4 linked regions of the Homo sapiens genome follow. The protein of the gene in region 3 interacts with the protein of the main gene of each other region in a pairwise test. Each region holds a gene or a part of one and is shown on either strand. Other genes may lie near its edges.

The links.
Region 1: the proteins of FKBP5 (region 3) and MCMBP interact in binary tests that used the Homo sapiens proteins (3 or more experiments, as listed by UniProt).
Region 2: the proteins of FKBP5 (region 3) and GLMN come close enough for resonance energy transfer, tested with the Homo sapiens proteins (one study listed by BioGRID).
Region 4: the proteins of FKBP5 (region 3) and CDK15 interact in binary tests that used the Homo sapiens proteins (3 or more experiments, as listed by UniProt).

What each region holds. Positions count from the first base shown.
Region 1 is NC_000010.11:119,834,798-119,838,391, reverse strand, and holds part of MCMBP (mini-chromosome maintenance complex-binding protein), read left to right. Parts: intron 1-1,362; coding exon 1,363-1,496; intron 1,497-2,687; coding exon 2,688-2,852; intron 2,853-3,594. UniProt on the Homo sapiens protein: Associated component of the MCM complex that acts as a regulator of DNA replication.
Region 2 is NC_000001.11:92,267,938-92,271,531, forward strand, and holds part of GLMN (glomulin), read right to left. Parts: coding exon 3,528-3,594; intron 1,840-3,527; coding exon 1,786-1,839; intron 199-1,785; coding exon 168-198; intron 66-167; coding exon 1-65.
Region 3 is NC_000006.12:35,636,916-35,640,415, forward strand, and holds part of FKBP5 (peptidyl-prolyl cis-trans isomerase FKBP5), read right to left. Parts: intron 244-3,500; coding exon 99-243; intron 1-98. UniProt on the Homo sapiens protein: Immunophilin protein with PPIase and co-chaperone activities. Component of unligated steroid receptors heterocomplexes through interaction with heat-shock protein 90 (HSP90).
Region 4 is NC_000002.12:201,830,483-201,834,076, reverse strand, and holds part of CDK15 (cyclin-dependent kinase 15), read right to left. Parts: intron 230-3,594; coding exon 106-229; intron 1-105. UniProt on the Homo sapiens protein: Serine/threonine-protein kinase that acts like an antiapoptotic protein that counters TRAIL/TNFSF10-induced apoptosis by inducing phosphorylation of BIRC5 at 'Thr-34'.

The sequences.
Region 1 (3,594 bases), on a different chromosome or scaffold from region 3:
CATATGTTATAAACTAATTATATACACCAACTATGTTTTGCCATAGTATTCTGAAAGTAGTACAATGGAACAGATATATATCTTATATAATATATCTTATATAATATATATCATATATAATATATAATGTCTCATTTAATATATATCATATATTATATATTTTATATATTATATAATGGAGCAATAATATAAAGGGTAGTATTAGTATAATGGAGCAGTAATATAAAGGGTAGTATTAGATGTTGAGGGTCGTAAGGGTTCTTTGGTGAAAAGTTTTATTGTGTCAGCGAATGGTTGGAGCAGTCTTTATGGGCCTACAGTGTTGGGTTCTTTTGCGTAGTTGTATATAACCTAAAATTTTTTTTTCAGTGAGTGTAAGGAATGGTAGAGACAGGGTCTCGCTATGTTGCCCAGCTGATCTTGAATTCCTGGGCTCAAGTGATCCTCCTGCCTTGGCCTCCCACAGTGCTGGGATTACAGGTGTGAGCCACTGCACCTGCCCCAAATAGCTTTTTAAAAAGCTGAAATGGGAGGAAGCTTTGCCTTTAGTCATCTAATACCTCAAAAGGGAAGTGTAGAAAAGATCTAATATAATTTTTTTTTTGTTTTGAGACGGAGTCTTGCTCTGTCGCCCAGGCTGGAGTGCAGTGGCCAATCTTGGCTCACTGCAACCTCCAACTCCCGGGTTCACACCATTCTCCTGCCTCAGCCTCCCGAGTAGCTGGGACTACAGGCACCCGCCATCACGCCTGGCTAATTATGTTTTAACCTCCCGTTGTAAAGTTTGTAAATGGTTTTCAGAGAATGTCTGAGAAATAATAGATCAAATGGTTTGCACTAACCTCAGTTGCGGAATATATTATAAAATCACAAGAAAGCAGATTGTTTACCAGTGCTCAAATGAAGACAATTAAGAATACACTGCTGGCGATCAGCTCAAGAGGTAAAGGTAGAAGAAAAAATGAGGTAGACTGGGCATGTTTAAGGCAAAGGGGAATATAAAATCTGTAAAATTCACTAGGCTGATCTATGTATGACGGTAGTTTTAGTGTTTCCTTGGTTTAGCCCTGTAAATACACCACTTAGAAATAATCATACTTGGGAACTATTTTATGTCTAGGTGCATACCAGATGCTAGGTATTAGATTTGCGGGGGTATCGCCTGCCCCCAGAAAGTTCTACCTTGACCAAGACTGTTGTAAGCCTACACACTTAGTGACGTTTAGCTTAGTAAACTGGACAGCGCCTCATACCCTTTATTAAAAGTGGTAGAAACTTCATGGCTCATCATCGGTGTCAGCAAAACTGATGTGTTTAGATGATTAAAGTCAAATGACTGAAAGTGTTTTCCTGCCTTTGTAGGTGTTCATAATGTGACAGCCCTGAGCAACCTCATAACGTGGCAGAAGGTGGATTATGACTTCAGCTACCATCAGATGGAATTCCCCTGCAATATTAACGTTTTCATTACTTCGGAGGGGAGGTCACTCCTCCCGGTATGATGAGTCATTTTTAAATGGAGGGAGGTTGACATTGGAAAAATACCTACATTTTTGCTGTTTCTTGGTACCGCTTATTAATAAGTTACATTTGTTGTAAAAAAAAAAAAAAAAAAAAAAAAAAAAAAAAAAAAACTGTGACTGCTGATCATTAAGGGAATTGAGTATTTTGCACTGCCATGGATGAAAACCTTACATCTACCAAGCTCAGGTATCAGCAAGTCATGAGACCAGCAAGGCTGTTGGCAGCAGAAACACCCACATCTGAGCATAGCGAGATTGCCTGATTTTAACATCCAGACTTCTGTTCTTGCTACCTTTGACCCATTGTTTTCTGCTAATCTTATGTGAAAAATATTTCAGAGTTCTTTTAAAATGTCCTTGGTCACTTGGTAGTTATTTTCATGCTTTGTGGTGAAATGCTCTGGTATGTCTTCAGAGTGGCTGGTAAAGAGAGCTTTTAATTCTGTGGATGATGGGAAATGCTCCCAGTTGTCAAATGGTGTGTAGTCTCTGAATAATAGTATTCACCTGCGATTGATGAGAAACCGCCTTTGACTAAGAATGAAATGGCTCAAGGATATGTTTTCTGTGTGCAAGTATTGATAGACCTTTTTAATTAGCTGCTTTTTAGAGGTTGGCTACATTTTTGTGTGCTTACTGATACCATTGAGGAAACATAAGTAACCAAGAAAAAGCTTTCATAATTATTTCTGAGGTAGTTATAAAGCATGTAAATTAATATTAAAAATAGATGCTCACTGGCTGCGGTGGCTCACGCCTGTAATCCTAGCACTTTGGGAGGCCAAGGCAGGTGGATTGCGTGAGCCCAGAACTTTGAGGCCAGCCTGGACAACATGACGAAACTTGTCTCTACAAAAAATCCAAAATTAGTCAGGCATGGTGGCGTGCACCTGTGGTCCCACTACTGAGGAGGCTGAGGTGGGAGGATCACTTGAGCCTGGGAAGCAGGTTGCAGTGAGCTGCAATCACACCACTGCACTCCAGCCTGGGTGACAGGACAAAACCCTGTCTCACACACAGAAAAAAAAACATTATTCCCTCCCCCTAAATAATAAGTGGTATTTTCTAATTCCCATAGGGGCTGACAGAGATGATGCATCTTTCTTTAAAAATGTAGATTAATTTAGGAACTCAGAAAATACAGTGTACTCCTTCTCTTTTCAGGCAGACTGCCAGATTCACTTACAGCCCCAGCTAATTCCACCAAACATGGAGGAGTACATGAACAGCCTTCTCTCAGCGGTGCTGCCTTCCGTGCTGAACAAATTCCGCATTTATCTAACTCTTTTGAGATTCTTGGAATATAGCATATCTGATGAAATAACCAAGGTATGTCTAGGTTAAAATAAAGGATTTCCCTGTGTTGAATTGCAGTATGCAACCAATTTACATTTACCATAATTACTGATAAGGTAATTTTGTTATTTGTTTTCTGTCATGTCTTTTTTTATTCCTCTGTTACTCCATTATTGTCTTTTTGTTTGAAATAGGTATTTTCCAGTGTCCCATTTTAATCCCTTGAAGTTTCTTAAAGTTATTTTCTTAGTAGTTGTCTTTGGGGGATAAACTTAACATGTTAGTATAATCATCTATTAGGGATTAATGCCAGTTTGTTTAGTTATTTTTAATTTAAAAAAAATTTGTGTGGCTAATGCCATTTTAATTATATTATACAAAGACTTTGCCCCTTTATAATTCCGTTCCTTCTCCTCTCCCTTGTGCTCCTGTCATACAATTACCTCTCAGTACATTGTATGTCCATCAACACATTTAGAATTACTGCTTTTGCAGTTGTCTTTTAGAGAAAAAAGTTAGAAATGGAAAAGACTTCTGTACTATTTTTTCTATTTGCCTATGCAATCACTTTTACCAGCACCCTTTATTTCCTCATGTGGGTTCATGTTACTGTCTAGTATCTTTTCATTTCAGCCTGAAGAACTGTCTTTAGTGTTTCTTGCATGGCAGGTCTACTTGTGCAAATTCTTTTTTTTTTTTTTTTTTTTTTTTGAGACAGGGTCTCGCTGTGTCATCCAGGCTAGAGTGCAGTGTTGTGATCATGGCTCACTGCAGC
Region 2 (3,594 bases), on a different chromosome or scaffold from region 3:
ATTTCTAAGTACTGGTAAAGTAGACTATTGTCTTCTATTCTCAATAAACTATTCTCCAGCAGCTCCTACAGATTAAAATATATGCAGATACATATATAGTGAAGTCAACAGCTGTTATTTGTTGACATAACTATGTATTTAAGTTATAATGGGAACAAACATCTTACCAATCCTTTGGAGATAACAGACTCTTCTGTTCTGAAAAATAATATTAAAATTTATCATGAATTTGTAAACTATTTTAGAATGATACTTCATCTTATGAAAAATACAGCAAAAACTGAAATTTTAACACTTTTAAAATGCATATCATTAAGGAGAAATTCTGTTGAAGAACTTGATCAAAAGTTTTAATCCATCTTTGATCTGTCTTTCGGTTTGGCTAAGGCCACTAAATCTGACCAAAATAAATCTACTCAGGGATTATTTCCTAACTTCAAAACAATAGATCTTCAACAGCAAGTGCTAAGAAACTAACTAAACCTGATATAACCAATGCTATATATTCCAGTTGATTATTCTGTAAAATCTTTCCAATTCTTTTTATTCAAAAAAAGACTCAATGACTCTGCAGTTTGGAAATCTCAAGAATTTAGGACTTAGATTCAAAACAATACATATTATCACTGTATGAATAACAGAAACTAAATGTAATGAATATAAAATCATTAAAACATACATAATACAGCAAATTTACAGAATTAGTAACTACTTGTGCCAGGAGACCCTTGGAAATTCCTGCCTTGTATGCTGAAGCTTTGGACATTGCCATGTTACAAATCTTCCTTCACCTGGTAAGAGATGGGACTGATAAACTGTCACTAGTGTTCATAGAGGATAATTGCAAAGCCCTAACTGATCTCAGGGGATAATTTAAACATGTTACATGTTATAGTGAAAGAAAACAAAGCATATAGTTCTGTGAAATTCTTTAATTTCTGTCTAGAAATTATGTATACCTGTTACTCTGTAATTTCCTTTTTTTTTTTTTTTTCTTTTGCGACAGGGTCTTACTCTGTTGCCCAGGCTGGACTGCAGTGGCATGATCTCTGCTCACTGCAGCCCAGACCTCCCAGGCACAGGTGATTCTTTCACCTCAACCTCCCAAGTAGCTGGGACAACGGGCAGGCGCCACCACTCCTGGCTAATTTTTTCTATTTTTTGTAGAGAGAGAGACTGGTTTCGAACTCCTGGGGTCAAGCAATCCTCTCGCCTTGGTCTCCCAAAGTGCTGGGATTATAGGCGTGAGCCACCGTGCCTGGCTTTTTTTTTTTTTTTTTAAATAGAAAGTCCTGCTGCTTAGCACCTCAAATGAGAAAAGTTGTAATTGAATGACATCACTGTCAATAATCTAAATTATAAAAGGTGGAAGTCAAGACACCTCCTTCCTTTTGATGCAATTCACAGACTGTGTCCATGAAGGAAAAATACGGAAGAACTTCTTTTATTGACTGCCCTTCCTTAAGATGGAGGAGGATGCAGTGGGGTAGAGGTGTTTTAATTTACCAACTTTTGGAGTAAGAGAAGAAACCTTAGAAACAGATGACTGTAAAAGCCCTTAAGACAAAATCTTAATACTGTCTTAAGTTTAAAATAAAACAGACTTTGGTGTAAAACCTCCTTGACTCATTTCTGTCTCTCTCGTGAATTATTTGCCTCGCTGTTTTATAAAATAACCAATTAATTAATTAGAGCTTAGCAAAGAAAAGGCAGTCTCCGCTGATCTTAACAAGGACTATTTTAACACTACTATTTCATTTTGAGATACCATCTAAACGATCTTACCTTTGCAAAAAGACTTCAATGTGCCCCATATTAAACTGCAAAAGGTACAATGGGCTAAAATAGAAACAAAACAAATATATATATTATACACACACACAGAGATATGTACACACATACATATTGTTATGGGTTGAATTGTATCTCCCCCAAAAAAGATATGTTGGAGTCCTAACCTCTAGTACCTCAGAATTTGACCTTATTTGGAGATAGGGTTATGGAGGTAATCAATTTAAAATGAGATTATTAGGGTGGGCCCTAATCCAATATGACTGTTGTCCTTATGTAAAAGGAAAGTTTGGAGACAGACACAAGCACACAGGGAGAACAGCATACGAACATGAAGGCAGAGAACAGGATAATGCATCTACAAGCCAAAGACCATCAAAGATTGTGAGCAAATCACCAGAAGCCAGGAGAGAGGCATGGAGAAGATTCTCCTTCACAACCCTCAGAAGGAGCATCCAGAACTATGAGACAAACTATTTCTGTTATTTCAACCATCCAGTTGGTAGCACTTTTTTACAGGAGCCCTAGCAAGTTAATATACATATGCTGTATAAGTTATTTTGGTGATAGAATGTGATGCTTAAGAGTATAGGCTCTGGGGTCAGACAGAGCTATCTGCATCCCACCTATGCCACAAAGTAGTTAGATCTTCAGTGGTATATTAACTTGTCTAAGCCTGTTATTTTCATCTGTAAAATGAGAGAATGCTCTATTTCACAGGCTTATTATAAGGATGAGATAATGCATATAAAGTTATTAGCATAATGTTTCATACATGGTGAACATGCAAATGATAGCCAGTATTTCAACATTTACATACGAATGTACTCCTAGCTATATTCATATATAAATGCACAAACTCACACAAATACCCAATGCCTATAAGACAAATACACAATCCTTATTATCATAGAACTCAAAGTCCAGAAGATATTACATTATAAAATTATATATTTTAAAAATAATTTTAATAAACATTGTGGGAAAAGAAGACAAGGTCAAGGTAATTATAATAGAAGGATTCAACCTAAATTGGGTGGTGAGTGAAGGCTTTCTTCAGAAAGTGACATTTAAGGATAAAGAGAATTTTAAGCATATACAAAGGCCAAATAGGAAAATTCATAACATTTAAACTAGAAACAAAAGAAGGTCTGTGTCACTGGAGCATAGTAAACAAGAGGAAAGGTGGTAGGAGATGAATCAGGTCAATTAAGCAGGGACCAGACCAGGCACAAGTTTGTCTCAGAAGTTATGCAAAGGCATTAAGACTTTATTCTTAAAGCAATAAAAAGCCACTGGAGGGTTTTCAGTAAGGGACTTCTTTTAAGGCTTCGCTTTCTGGTATGTTGAGAATGTGTTAAATTAAAAGGAAGTAAAAGTAGATATATAAATCCACTCAGGATTACAGCAGTAATCCAGTGAAAAGATGATGATACCCCTGGGTACCTGGCTAGTTCCAGGGTGGTCTCAAAAGCTTCAAAACCAAGCCCTGTTTATCATCTTCTGATTCTTGTCCCCACCATTCCCTTACACCTATTTCAACACTCCCCACTTTCATTACTTGTCTACTGCTATCTTTAACAGATTATAGCTGGGATCATTCTTATTAAAAATAGCCTTTACTATTTATTTAAAATGTATTAGTGTGTTAATATGCATATATTGGACATTAGATAAATGAGAATTTTATGAAATTCCTTTTAGAATACATGAATAAACCAAACACTAACTCTTACCTTAAGACCATTGGAAGCTGATCAATATGGATGCCCTGTACAAATACTAGATATGCCAGAGAAGCCA
Region 3 (3,500 bases):
ATTTCTTTACTTTTAGAAAGGATAGAATCCTCTGCTCCTATATATTACAAATAGTAATAAAGCTAAGTAAAACACAACTCAAAAAAATACCCTCTTACCTTTGCCAAGACTAAAGACAAATGGTTCATTTCTATCATGACTGGAATCAAACTTCTTTCCATTTGACAATTTTCCTTTGTAATGGACATAAACTTTGTCTCCAATCATCGGCGTTTCCTCACCATTCCCCACTCTTTTGACAATCTAGAAAAGACAAACATTAAGAAAAAGGAGGTCAAACTTTTTACTTGTAATCAGAGAATAAAAAGGTCACACAGTCCATCCCAAGACATCCAGGCAGATATGCAAATATACTATTATCCATTCTTTCTAATGCCTCCCTTCATTCCTCACAATAACTCATTGTTAGAAAACTGTCCTTTACCAACTTGTCTTTTATGTTATATCTACTTTTATTGCTAATCGCACTATTTATTCCTTCAAAGAATTAACCAATAAATCCTGTTCATTGGTTTAATGCCCTATATTTTGACAGTAAACTCTTTTTTTTTTTTTTTTTTTTTTTTGAGACGGAGTCTTGCCCTGTCGCCCAGGCTGGAGTGCAATGGCACGATCTCGGCTCACTGCAACCTCTGCCTCCCAGGTTGAAGCAATTCTCCTGCCTCAGCCTCCCGAGTAGCTGGGATTACAGGCGTGCGCCTCCGTGCTCAGCTAATTTTTGTATTTTTAGTAGAGATGGGGTTTCACCATGTTGGCCAGGCTGGTCTCGAACTCCTGACCTCGTGATCCACCCGCCTCAGCCTCCCAAAGTGCTGGGATTACAAGCATGAGCCACCGCGCCCGACACTAAACTCTCTAACACAGGCTTGTGAGCTAGTCCATATACACACGGACTTAGACCAGAAAGAATGGTGGACTTTTAAAATATTCAAAAAGAAGCTTAAGCAAAGCTTCAAAGGTGTAATTTTATTTCCCTCCTTTGCTAAAAACATTAGCTCCTGACTAGATTCTGCTTGTTTATTTTCAGAAAGCCCAATTTCCTGGTAAAACAGGTTACATTTCCTATTATTTGAAACATAGTCTATCTGTAAAAAACATGAGTATCATTGCACTGCTTGATATGATACTGAATAACTTGTTTTCTAGTAAAGTATTTAACTACTGTAAAATCCAGTGTATTTATTTTGTTCTTGGCAGAGCAAGCTGCTAATGTATTTGGTCAGTTCTGGGAAAAGAAAATCAAACCCAGGTGTGTGATGGTGTAATTTGTTAATTTGTAATCTATGCCAAATTAATCATTTTTGGTAGATAACAGAGGATGGTAGCTAACATCTGATGAACATCTTTTTGGGGAAGGAGTTTGCTTTGAGTTTTATTTAAATAATTCGATTATTTGCTCCTAAATTCTTTTTTTACAAGTATACCGTCCACCTAACATAAATATCACATAAACACTGTGAACTTAAATTCCACAGCTTTCTTAACTCAAAAGCCCAAACATCTTTATTTTATTTTTTGAGACAGGGTCTTGCTCTTTTACCCAGGCTAGAGTGCATGCGGTGGTACAATCATAGCTCACTGTAGCCTCTATCACTCAGCTCAAGTGATCATCCCACCTCAGCCTCCCGAGTAGCAGAGACTACAGGCACATGCCACCACGCCTGGCAAATTTTTTTATTTTTAGTAGAGATGAGATCTTGCTACATTGCCCAGGCTGGTTTGGAACTCCTGAGTTCCAATGATTCTCCCGCCTCAGCCTCCTAAAGTGCTGAGATTACTGGTATAAGCTATCGCACCCAGCCCCAAATATTCTTTAAAGGCAAAGAAACACTACTGCCCTTCTAGGACTTCAAAAGAAAAAAAAAGTCTCAAAACATTAATCTAAAAGATATTACACAATATTCTACAAGTGCTCATGTTCACGAACTGCATGTGGTATTTGGGAGGCTATGCTCAACTGTAAGCCTCACGTGGAAGGAATCTGCATTTCTAGGACTATAAACAGTAACTGGGCATGTGGGATGAATGGCTACCAGAGAGTCAGAGAGCCATCCACACCAGCAAGTGGTACTATGGTATCACTTCAGGCTTCCCTAGCAAGATGAATTTGTACCTAAATCTAGAGTTGCCTTAAGAACACAATCTAGGTTCTATTCATTTTTAAAATATAAATCCATCTTTTATCTTCCTCAGATAGTTACTGAATTTCCAAACCAGCACTGGTTCTTTTTTTAAAAATACGTAATAGTTAATAAGATAGATTACTATAGGACAGGCACTATGCTAAGTGCTTCACCTAATCCTAATAACTCTATGAGGTTGATGGCATTATTATTCTAATTTTACAAACAGGAACTTAATCACAGAGAGGTTAACTAAATTGCCCTAGCTTGCACAGTTACTAGACCTATTTAAATCTTAACCAAAAGCCTCATGGTGAAATCCGAGGCTCTAGACAATGATAAATGATATAATTTAAAGGGCTTCAAATCTCAAATGTTTCTTAATAAGCCTAAAAATCTTGCAATTAGATTTACTCCCTAGAACAGAACAGGGTCTGAGGCAAGTTGGGGATCATGTTCTCTGGGCATGGGCACTCTGAAAAGATGAAAGGGTAAGTCGTAAACAGAGGCAGGGAGATGCTGAGGACAGCCTGCAAAGTCTCCACTGTTTCTAGAAGCTTCCTGGAATTTAGGATGAGTAACTATAGCTACAAGGTTGAGAAGCCTTCTAAAAAAAGACAATAGGATGTAAATCTATAGCATAAAGCCCTTATTCTATAGCTGCAAGTCCCCAAAATTTGACTTAGCACATAATAGCAATTCACATATATTCAGAAGAGATCCAGGCACAGAAGGCTTTCACATAAGCAAAGTTATACAAAACAAAAATTCTTACTTGCTACTGCTGGCACAAGAGATATTAAAACTCAGCATCCTGGTAATATTCAGAATGCATCAGATAATCTTTTCAGGAAAAACAAAACTTAACTATACAAAACTTACATGTGTTAACAATGGTGTAGGAGAAATAACTATTTAATGTGACTAAAGCCACTTAACCTTTCTCAGATTCAGTTTATTCACTTATAAGATGGAAGAATCAAGAGATGCTCTGATTGTCTCACCACATTGTTGTAAGAAACAAAACAAAAGAAATGCACGTGAAAATGATTAACTATAGAGTGAAGAAACACACACAGTCATGCATCGCTTAAGGACAGGGATATGTTCTGAGAAATGTGTTCTTAGATGATTTCATCCTTATGTGAACATCGCAGAGTGTACTTACACAAACCTAGATGGCCTGGCCTACTTGTACACACCCACGTTAGGTGGTTTGGCCTACTGCTCCAAGGCTACAAACCTGTACATTGTGTTACTGCACTGAATACTGCAGGCAATTGTAAAACAGTGGTATTTGTGTATCTAAGCATATCTCAACATAGAAAAAGGTACAGTAATAAAAGGTATACAAGAAAAAAAATGGTACACCTATAC
Region 4 (3,594 bases), on a different chromosome or scaffold from region 3:
CTTGGGCCTCCAGTTTTCAAAGGCCAGGCCCAGTCAACGCTTAAACAAGTGCACACAAAAGCATCATTGTTCACAGCCCAGAATGAGACCCGAGGGGCGACTTACCAAAATCAGCCAGTTTGAGCTCTCCCAGGTGACTGATGAGTAAGTTCTGAGGTTTCAGGTCCCTGTGAAGAACGTGTTGGTGGTGGATGTACGCCAGGCCCCGCAAAAGTTGAAACATGAAAAGCTGGAAGGAAGAAACACTATCCATAAGGAGATTTGAGCCACCACGTGCTGATTTCGCCTCTAAATCAAAAACAGTCATCTCAAAGAATATAGTAAAAGTGTCTCTTGAGAGACCAAAAAAAAAAAAAAAAAGAAGAAGAAGAAGAAGATTTTTACATTCAGAGGGGGAAGAAAAAGGACAAGAAAAGTCAAGTAACTAGACTGTGTCCTAAACAAAGGGATTCTGGCTTTTCCTGACATCTCATTTCTTTGATACTGAAGGAATTACCCTTCTTTAAAAATCTAAAGTGAAACTTTGAAGTTTCCTTTGGAACACTAGTTATTGATTTAGATGTGAAAGATTTAATTTTTTTCCCCACCGATGAACTTGGCATATAAGATCAAAGTTGACCTGGAAATGATATTCTAAAGTTTACAACTGCTTAAGTTTTCCAGGCTCTCCAATATGAAACCCTTTTAAAAACACAACACAAGGAGACCACACTAAAAAATATATCTTTAGATGGTATTAGAAAATAAAGAAATCTTTATCTTTTTAAAGCTATTTTTAAAGTCTTAAATTCAAAGTTGAAAACAAGGGAAATACACAGTACAGATGAAAAGGGAAGAGAGACCAAAATAAGTTAGACCCCCCCCCTCAAAAAAAATCAAAAAAGAATAAGGAACAAATTGTAGGAGGAAGAAGGGAGAAAGGGTAAATGGTAGTGGTGGAGAAATAAAAGGGAAAAACACATTCTGAGCCCCAAATTAAAAATGTTTCATGTGGTTATGAGGCACAGAAACCAAAGCCATTAACTAGGTTCCCATCACTACAGAAACTTACGGGAAAAAAAGAATGCTTAGTATTCCAAGTATCTTTTGCTATTTTCCAGTGCCATTGGCAATTGAGAATTCAAACACCAACATCAGTATTTACAAAGACGTATGTCAACTGAGAACGTGTTCTGGCAGTTCAGAAAGGAAGGGCTAGGCCCAGCATTCCTGGGACATGGGCAAAATGGCAGATGCAGAGTTATGTGGATTAATCCTCTTTTTCAACAGCATCTTAGAAAGCTAGGACTTTCAGAGATGCTAGGACCAGTATTGATCTAACAAAGACCTGGAGACATTGGAGCCAAATGGTCCAATGGAAGCAGGAGCATGGAGAGTTTACCTACCATAGCATACCTGCAGCTATGCAGGTTTCATGTAGCTACCACATCAGGTTCATAAACCATTTAAGTATTTTAAAAATTTCTTATGACTCCTAGTTCAAATGTTAACTGGTTCTATGAATCTTCCCAGCATTTTCTCTTTCTGATGCTTCAAATATACACACATTATTCATTTTACCATTCACCAAGCCACGAAGCTTCCATAGCACAAAATTCCTACACTGACATTTAAACCTTCTGATTGGTTATAAATATAAATGTCCATGGAAAAGGTAATACAAACAACCAGCTTAAATTCCAGGTAAAAGACAAGAAGATATGATAGTATGTGCTTAAAAATACGTTTTTCAGACTGGCGCAGTGGCCCACGCCTATAATCCCAGCACTTTGGAAGACCAAAGCGAGCGGATCACCTGAGGTCAGGAGTTCGAGACCAGCCTGGCCAATGTGGTGAAACTCCATCTCTACTAAAAATACAAAAATTAGCCAGATGTGGTGGTATATGCTTATAATCCCAGCTACTCGGGAGGCTGAGGCAGGAGAATTGCTTGAACCTGGAAGGCAGAGGTTGCAGTGAGCCAGGATCGTGCCTCTGCACTCCAGCCTGGGTGGCAGAGCAAGACTCCATCTCAAAAAAAAAAAAAAATGTTTTTCAATATGCAGGACTAGGGAAAGAGGAAGAGGAAGACAGGTGGATAGAAGACAGGAAGCTGGTGACCAGTGAGGGATACAACCTTTGGGATAGCATGCTTATCCTCAGTTTACAGAGAAAACCAGGGCTCAATGTAACTTTTAAAACATGTCTAGGAATAGTCAGAGCCAAGACTCAAATTCAGACTTGTCTGACTCCACTATACCATCCTGAGAAACTAGAGAAAAGACAGAAAATGAAAACATGACAGGGAAGGAGAGAGCCAGCTGGCTGAGTCAGAGACAGAGCTTCTTAGTAGGTCAGCTTGAAATGCCTTTTATGTCCCAAGTGTAGACTATTTTCACTAACTAGCCACAGTCCCTTCCCACATTCTTGCCATTCAACCCCTTTCCTCTCTGCCAGATACGTCTACAGGCATTTGTGAGTGGTAAAGCACTGCGGTATTAAGGTATGGTATTTTATAACCACATTTCTCAAAATTGCAGTCTGTGCTGACAAACCTCATCACCCACTCACCCTTTCATCCCTTCCAACCTGGATTCTTCATTCAACACTACAGAAGCTTCACCAATTATTGCATCCTAACATAACCAAATATGATGGTGTCTGCACAGTTCAACATCAGCCAGATCGTGGGTGACTCTTTCCAGAAAGGCTTCCCAGATCCCAGGAGTTAGACCTGTTTCCAACTCAATAAGTTTTGGGGGAACAAAATAATTCCATTGAACTAGTGCCATCTGGGCCAGGAGTTACTCAAAAACCAATGAGATCCGTTAGCCAACTCCTTATAGGGAAGCCTGAGTCCTTCCATCCCCCCTGGAATCCCTGGGACTCATTCTACTAGAAATCTGAAACAAGATAACCTCACGAGGATTCCCACCCTGTCTTCCTTGGTCACAACTCAAAATATAAGCCTCTGACTATTCCTTTTCCTCCCAACATACTCATCTCCATTCTGTTCTGTGCTTCCTCTGTTTAGCTTCATATCTATTGCTCCTCTCTCTCCCAAACATTTTCACTGTTTAGTCTCCATTCTTCAATCCTGCTTTAAAAACTACCTAAAAGCTAACCTCTGGTGAATTTCCTTTTGGCTCCTTTCCTTAAATGAGACCTTGAGCTCACTGCTTCCCTATAATATTCTCAAGTGGATGTTAGTTTTTCTATAACTTCCTCATACCTTTGACCACTGACAAGTGTCATAAGCTGCCTCCCTTTTCCCCACTACCACTTCAAAACCATTACTTCTCTACTTTTAAGTAAAAACCCCTGTCCCTTGGATTTTAATGCCATCCAGCCACATCTTCCATTACTCTTCTTTTAGCGGTCATTCACTGAACTCTCAATCCCTCTCTGTCATTCACTGAAGATGTGGGCACTTGGATCACAGCTGTTGACTCCATGACATTAGTGCCCATGAGAACAGCTCTAGCCAACCTCAGCTCCAATGATCTGCTTCTCCAATCCACTTCAGACACTAACTCCCGTGGTCACACACTAGATCTTGCCATTGTATGGAACTGTTTGTCCTCTGAAATACAAAATTCATCCCCCTATAAAAAT